2 linked regions of the Homo sapiens genome follow. The protein of the gene in region 2 interacts with the protein of the main gene of each other region in a pairwise test. Each region holds a gene or a part of one and is shown on either strand. Other genes may lie near its edges.

Region 1 (3,500 bases), about 24 Mb from region 2:
CAAGAGTCCCCACAATGGTCCTCTAAAATGATTTACCCTCAGTAACTGGCTAGTTGGTCTGCTAATCACCTTTGGCTAGTCGATCTGCTAATTACCTTTTCTCCCTAAGCTTAATAAGATTCTCTTTCCTTTTTCCTCTCTGTGCATCAGTCAGTTTTTACTGCTTCAGGCCCTCCAAACATACTCTGATGACATCTTGTCTTCTGAAACACATACCAAAATTGATCCCACTTCTGGCCCAAGGCTCATAACCCGCAGGAAGAATCTCTCTTATGCACCAGGCTATAGAAGAGATGACCTCGAGATGGCAGCCCTGGATCCTGACTTAGAGAATGATGATTTCTTTGTCAGAAAGACTGGGGCTTTCCATGCAAATCCATATGTTCTCCGAGCTTTTGAAGACTTTAGAAAGTTCTCTGAGCAAGATGATTCTGTAGAGCGAGATATAATTTTACAGTGTAGAGAAGGTGAACTTGTACTTCCGGATTTGGAAAAAGATGATATGATTGTTCGCCGAATTCCAGCACAGAAGAAAGAAGTGCCGCTGTCTGGGGCCCCAGATAGATACCACCCAGTCCCTTTTCCCGAACCCTGGACTCTTCCTCCAGAAATTCAAGCAAAATTTCTCTGTGTACTTGAAAGGACATGCCCATCCAAAGAAAAAAGTAATAGCTGTAGAATATTAGTTCCTTCATATCGGCAGAAGAAAGATGACATGCTGACACGTAAGATTCAGTCCTGGAAACTGGGAACTACCGTGCCTCCCATCAGTTTCACCCCTGGCCCCTGCAGTGAGGCTGACTTGAAGAGATGGGAGGCCATCCGGGAGGCCAGCAGACTTAGGCACAAGAAAAGGCTGATGGTGGAGAGGTCAGAGTGTGTTTCTGCAAGGATTTTGCTTGTAATGGATGGTCTTGTGTAACTTTTCTCATGCGAGAAAGCAGCTCATCGTGTTGCTCAACTCTGCATGTCGCGTGCCATTTTGAAGCATCCCGTAAAATTTAATTTGCTTTGAAAAACCCTCAGTCGTTTTGTACAAAAAGTGCAATTCCATATTTGCATATCTCTAAATAACTTATTTAGGCCTGTTTAAGACTGTATATACATAAACCTTGCCTTTGACTTAAGCAGTACTGTGGTACTATCCACCAATATGAAGTTTCTGGACTTCTCATGTTCAGGCATTTTTGTAACAGTCTGGTTATAGTTTGGTTTTATGTGTTGCTCACATTTTAGAGTGTCTGATTTTTTTGGGGGGGTGAAATTTTCCCTTAAAATATGGCATTGCAAATTTCATTTAACTTAATTTTTGGTTTTGGCCTAGGTTTCTTGGACTATCATTTGTAACTTATTTTTATTTATGAAGTTCAGAGTAAACGTTGATGTTAAAATGCATGAATGGTATTTGTTGTCTGCTGAATTTTATGTGTATGTAATCATGGCCATTTTGATAGTTTGTATTATGCAACTTGCCTTTTTGATGAATGTTCAGTTTGTGGAACTTAGAGATGGACAAATCTGATTAGGTTGAATAAAATTAGAGGATCCAAATCTAACTTAACAGTTCCTGACAATGGGAAGCCTTTTCATATGGATTTGTTAGCTCAGAGTAAATTGAGGAAATTCTTCATTTTGCTTAATCTGAATTTCCTGAGATAGGAAATTGATGAGAACTTGAGACATGATCAAGAATGTGATGGAAGAAGTGACCTTTTGAGATTTGTCCGTCTCCAGTTAGATTCTTAAGTGGAAGACATTGAACGTTTAGAAACTAATATGACTGGGAAAAATGACTTTTTAATTTTTGGTTTTCTGGTTTCTTAGACTCTTTCAAAAGATTTATGGTGAGAATGGGTAAGTTGTGTGGTTCACAGTAAAAAATCTGTGCGTGTTGTTTGTTCTTTGTATAACTTACTGTATTTCTGGCATGGCATGTCACTAAATGGGGTTGTTGTGTGCTGTGCATGATATTTTTTAAGTGGGAAATGTTTATCTTGCAACCTAATGGTAATATTTCTGTGTCTTGGTGCCCAGTGCAAGATAAAATTATTTGTTTTATTAAAAATTTAAACTTCAGCTTCATCCCTTCTTTTTTCCTTTTTAAAAATTTAATGAGTTGATTAAAAGTCACAAAAGCACTTGCCTAAGATTAGGTATATGTATTTTGGTATTTGGTTGCTACATAGACTAAAATTCTGATTTATGGATGCTAAAGCCCAAATTACTACATTTTAGAAAATCTGTGATGGAAAAAGAATATTAGCATTTACTTCAAGTTTAGAATACACCCAGTTGACATTATCCTATAATCGGCCAACTGGGAGCTTCGTTAGTAGGGATGCATTAAACTTCCCTAGGTGGTATTTGGAAGTATTATATTTTCAAGATTCCTGATTAGGAAAAAAAAGTTATAACATGGCTATATTTATAGTGCAAAATAGACCTTCAAAAACTGCAAAAATATTTTTAATTTCTAATATCACTGTTGCAAAAACTACATTTTTTTTTTTTTTTTTTTTTGAGATGGAGTCTCGCTCTGTCGCCCAGGCTGGAGTGAAGTGGCGCAATCTTGGCTCACAGCAACTTCCACCTCCCAGGTTCAAGCAATTCTCCTGTCTCAGCCTCCTGAGTAGCTGGGACTACAGTTGCATGCCACCACACTCTGCTAATTTTTGTATTTTTAGTAGAGACGGGGTTTCACCAGATTGGTCCGGCTGGTCTCAAACTCCTGACCTCAGGTGGTCCATCCACCTCAGCCTCCCAAAGTGCTGGGATTACAGGCAAAAACTACATTTACAGTAAATCATTTATTCATTCTTAGTACAAAATCACAAGGTGGCTATATCTTAATATTTTCCACCAAACTTTCTGTAACTTTGTGAATCTAAGGGCTAATAGTGTTTGAGCAAGAGGAAGAGAGTTAAAGGATGACAGATGTTTTAATCTGCTCAAGCCTCAGTAGCTAAGTATCTTCCCTTATGAGGATTTACTTCATCTATAAGAATCTCTAGTTTTGATAGCTTTTTATAACTTTGATAATTCAGAAATGTTGGAAGCTACTAAATGTAAAGCAGTATAACCATTCTAGATGCCAAAGGTGTAACTGAGCCACAGGCAACAAATTGCAAGTACTTGTTAGCCACTGATTTTAAAAACCAGGGTCCCTGCATGCTTTCCGTGTGCCATGCAAAGGCACATTATCCGCTTTCCAGCTCATCTGCATGATGCTTAAACATTTGCTACTCTCAAGTCATAGGAAAGCTGTTTTAACTTGATTAAAAATCTCTTTGCAGCTTTAAGCATGTTGAATTGTAACTTTCAGAAAAATTTTCATTTGTAAATTAAATATAACTTTATAATGTAAGCAGCTCTCAGAAATAGTTGCTTTTCTTAAAGGAAATAAAAGTACCCAGAGTACAAGTATGTGGTGGAAATGTCAACATGTACAACCATTTCAGTGGCTGGATGTGTTCCCTGTAGTGAGGGGTAAATTATATGAC
Region 2 (4,031 bases):
TTCAGGATCCAGTTCCTTTCAGCCCATCCCCTCCCATTTGTGCACACCGTCTCAGAACACCGCGCCCAGAACTGAGTGTGACACCACGGGTGTGGTCTCACCAGGGCAGTGAGGCCACTGCCCTCCAACAGTCTGGGCCCTTAGCTTCAATGAGAGCAGAGGAATGCATTAGTAGTGTGCATATGTGTTGTGTGTGCCTGTGCATGCACTTGTGTAAGGAGCTGCATCACTGGTGTGGCCAGTTAAGCTGGGCCTGCTGAAAACACTCAGGAATTTTCACATAAAATGCTGTCAAGTCAGGTCTCTCAAATCCTACCTGACCTTTTAAGTCTAGGACTCTACATATCTCTGTTAAATTCCATCTGATCATTTTCCAGTCAACCAAAATGAATTATTTTCAATTCTCATTTTGTTATCTACTGTTAATCATCTCCCTCAAACTTGTATCATGCCTAAATTTGATTAGTAAACCTCTACAACTTTGTTCAAGTTATTATTGATGAAAATGTCAAACACGTCAGGTCAAAGAGCCCAGAACTCTGTGTTCAAGGGGTTAATCAACATTTTTAATCAGTTTCAAACCCACTTCATTGCACTATCATTATCCATTCTGCATGTCACCAACATCTCTCATAAGCTGATGAGATGTTGTCAAAGGTCTTGGTGATCTCTTGCCAACAGGATTGGTTTGGTGTCCTAGACCACAGCTGTCTTTTCAACGTTCACAAACCATCTATTTGATAATAATCTGTTTAAGCTTTTGCCAGATGTGAAACTTCAATTCTGCCACTTGGTTCTCAGAATTCACACTTTCCTTTTCCTTAGGAACATTTTCAAGCTAAGTGTTCCTCCCTGTGCTTTCTCAAGCCTCCATCAGGTTGTGCAGGGAGAGGGGCTGGAGGACTCAGGCTGGATATGTGTCATGTGGAAGGAAAACTCTCTCTGATCAAGGTGGTCTTTCCAATCTTGGGTGGAAATAACCTGTATGATGTTCCCTCCAGTTAAGGACCATTGTCATTGGTGGAGATAACTCAGGCCAAACGGGAGCTGGCCTGCCTTCCTTCCACCTACTATCCACCACCATGATGCCATGGCCCCCAAACAACTTGGCCACTCTTAATGACGTTTATTTAAACGGCTTGGAAAAGCTACCTTTACTACTACCTGTAGTACTTCAAGTGCAGCTGAGGACTGGCTGCTTCTTTGCACCCAGCCAGCACAAACGAATCCATTTGCTGTCCACACTCAGCAATTTGGAGATCTGGCAAATGACGATTCATAATCTGGAGTGATGAAGTGTGACTTTAGGCCACAGCTCCACCTGGCACTTGAGCTCTCCCTCCACTGATGATACATTTGGTTTGGAATCCACAGGATGCTGATAATGGGCTGGCTACACACAGGTCACCAACACAGGGCAGCAGCATGGACTGCATGCAGGCCCTGCCCTGGAGAGGGAAGAACCCCTTAGGTCTGGGATGGCTGGGCTGGGTTGTAAGTCACGTAGGTGACATCCTAGAGTAAGAACGAAAGCTTTCTATGTACACGAGACTTCCTTCTGAGTTCATTCTCTCAGACATGAACGACATGTGCCGCGGTGCTGGTTTTGACAACTAAGACTGGCTTTTCACAGGTCTTGGCAGAAGAGAGCGTCTGCTGTCACAGCTTGCAGCGGGCTCGCTCTTCATCCTCTGCGGGGCAGATCATGCCCCTTTAGCCAAAGCTGGCTTCAGAGCTTTAAGTGATTTTTATGGGTGAGAAGACAAGTGTGACAGGAGAACTTTCACTGCCCACTGACCTGTTATTTTCACCAGATTAAAAACTATTGCTAAGTAGCAATAATGTTAGCACAGTTCTTTAAAAAGAATAAACAATTACACTAAGAAAGGGCACCTGAAGGTTTCCCATAGTGTCCAAAACTAAACATCCATGGCAAACTGAAACTGCATGCTTGGGCTTGGGTATGCGATGACAACCAGCCAGCAAGGACGAGAAGGGTCAGGGGATAGGTGTTCCGATGGGTGCTTACCCAATACTCCCCAGTGGAGGGGTGCAGTGCAGTGCTCACAGCCGTGCAAGTTAGCCAAGTGGCCCCTGCTGTCCTTTCTTTATGTAGTTTCAGAGGTTCACCATATAGACAGTAAGAACTGGAGCAAAAACTAGCAGCACAGAGAACAGTTGTCTGTAGGGCTCTTTGGTGGACACTAACAATTACTGCTGTGGCTCTCACTATTCCTCTGCTCAGAGAAGCCCAGCACGCCCAGTCCCCACACATCTCATTACGGTCTCTCCTGGGAAAGCTTACTCGGCATGTGAAGCATCAACTCCTGTGCTCAAATTACAGAAAGACGAAATTGAGGCCTGCGCAGACGTGCAGTCAGGTAAGCAAAACACACGTTAAGCATTCCTAATCTGAAAATTCAAAATCGAAAATGCTCCAGAATTTGAAACTTTTTGAGTACCAACATGGCAGTACAAATGGCAAGTTCCACACCTGACCTCATGTGATGGGCTGCAGTCAAAATGCAGGCCACAACATGTAGTTTATTCAGTGTCTCCAAGGGAAAAGAGACCCTCTCACCCTCCTTCAGCTGTGACATGCCTTTTCTGCACATGCCCCGACTCCCCCACGCAAGCACATGCCAGTGGGCAGGTTCCCCACAATGACCTGCATGGGGCCAAAACCCACGTGCGTCACTCACTGTGCTTTTTTGCTTACTTTCTGCTCTGTGTTATAAAAATGTTGTTAAAATATCTAAAAGGTGTGCAGATACCCTCTGGGTAACAGTGATAAGAAAAAGATTTATGTTTATCTATAGCACAGAAAGTCAAGCTGTTGGAGAAAGTGGAGAGCAGTGTAAGTGTGAAACGTCTTACAGGAGAGTATGGTGTTGGAGTGACCACCATATAGGATCTGAAGAAACAGAAGGATAAACTGTTGAAGTTCTGTGCTAAAAGTGATAAACAGAAATTAATGAAAAATAGAGAAACACTGCATAAAGCTAAAAATGAAGATCCTGATCATGTACCGAGGATGGATCCCTTGGTGTTGCAGTGAACACCTGCCACTTAATGCTATGTGGGTCAGGAAACAAGCAAGGATCTATCAGGATGAGGAACTGAAAATGAAAAGGAACTATGAATATTCAACATGTTGGCTGCAGAAATTTAAGAAAAAACATGAAACCAAATTTTTTAATGTGGTGACAAAGCATCATGAAGCAGCAAAGAAATTCATTGGTGAGTTTGCCAAGGTCATTGCTGACAAAAATCTGATGCCAGAACAAGTCTATAATGCTGATGGAACATCACTGTTTTGGTTTTATTGCTCCAGAAAGACACAACTACAGCTAATGAGACAGCCCCTCCAGGAACTGAGGACATCAAGGGCAGAACAACTTTGCTGGGATGTGCTAATGCAGCAGGCATGCATAAGCGTAAACTTGCATGACAGGCAAAAGTTTGTGTCCTTGCTGTTTTCAAGCAGCGAATTTCTTACCAGACCATTATTATGCTAACAAAAAGGCATGTTTAACTAGGGATATCTTTTCTGATTGGTCTCACAAACATTTTGGACCTGTGGCTTGTGCTCACTGCAGGGAAGCTGGGCTGGATGATGACTGAAATATTTTGTTATACCTTGACAACTTTTCTGTTCATCCTCCAGCTGACATCTCATCAAAAATCATGTTTATGCCATGTACTTTTCCCCAAATGTGACTCCATTAATTCAGCCATGTGGCCAAGGTATTCTTAGATCAATGAAGGATAAATATAAAAGTACCTTCTTGAACAACATGCTAGCAACAAATGAATGGGTATGGAAGATTTTCAACAGGCGTTTAGCGTGAAGGATGCCACACATGCTGTTGCCAATGCATGGAACACAGTGACTGAGAACACAGCTATGCAAGCCTGACACAACCTCTGGCCTGTGCTATGTTCAGTGATGATGACGAACAAGGTGGTGACTTTGAAGGATTCCACATGTCAAATGAGGATAAAATGATGCCTGACCTCCTAACAGGTAA

Evidence for each region.
Region 1: the proteins of UBAC2 (region 2) and LMO7 interact in a two-hybrid assay, tested with the Homo sapiens proteins (one large-scale study listed by IntAct).

What each region holds. Positions count from the first base shown.
Region 1 is NC_000013.11:75,807,330-75,810,829, forward strand, and holds part of LMO7 (LIM domain only protein 7), read left to right. Parts: intron 1-150; coding exon 151-870; intron 871-1,824; coding exon 1,825-1,854; intron 1,855-3,500.
Region 2 is NC_000013.11:99,378,600-99,382,630, reverse strand, and holds part of UBAC2 (ubiquitin-associated domain-containing protein 2 isoform 1 precursor), read right to left. Parts: intron 1-4,031. UniProt on the Homo sapiens protein: Restricts trafficking of FAF2 from the endoplasmic reticulum to lipid droplets.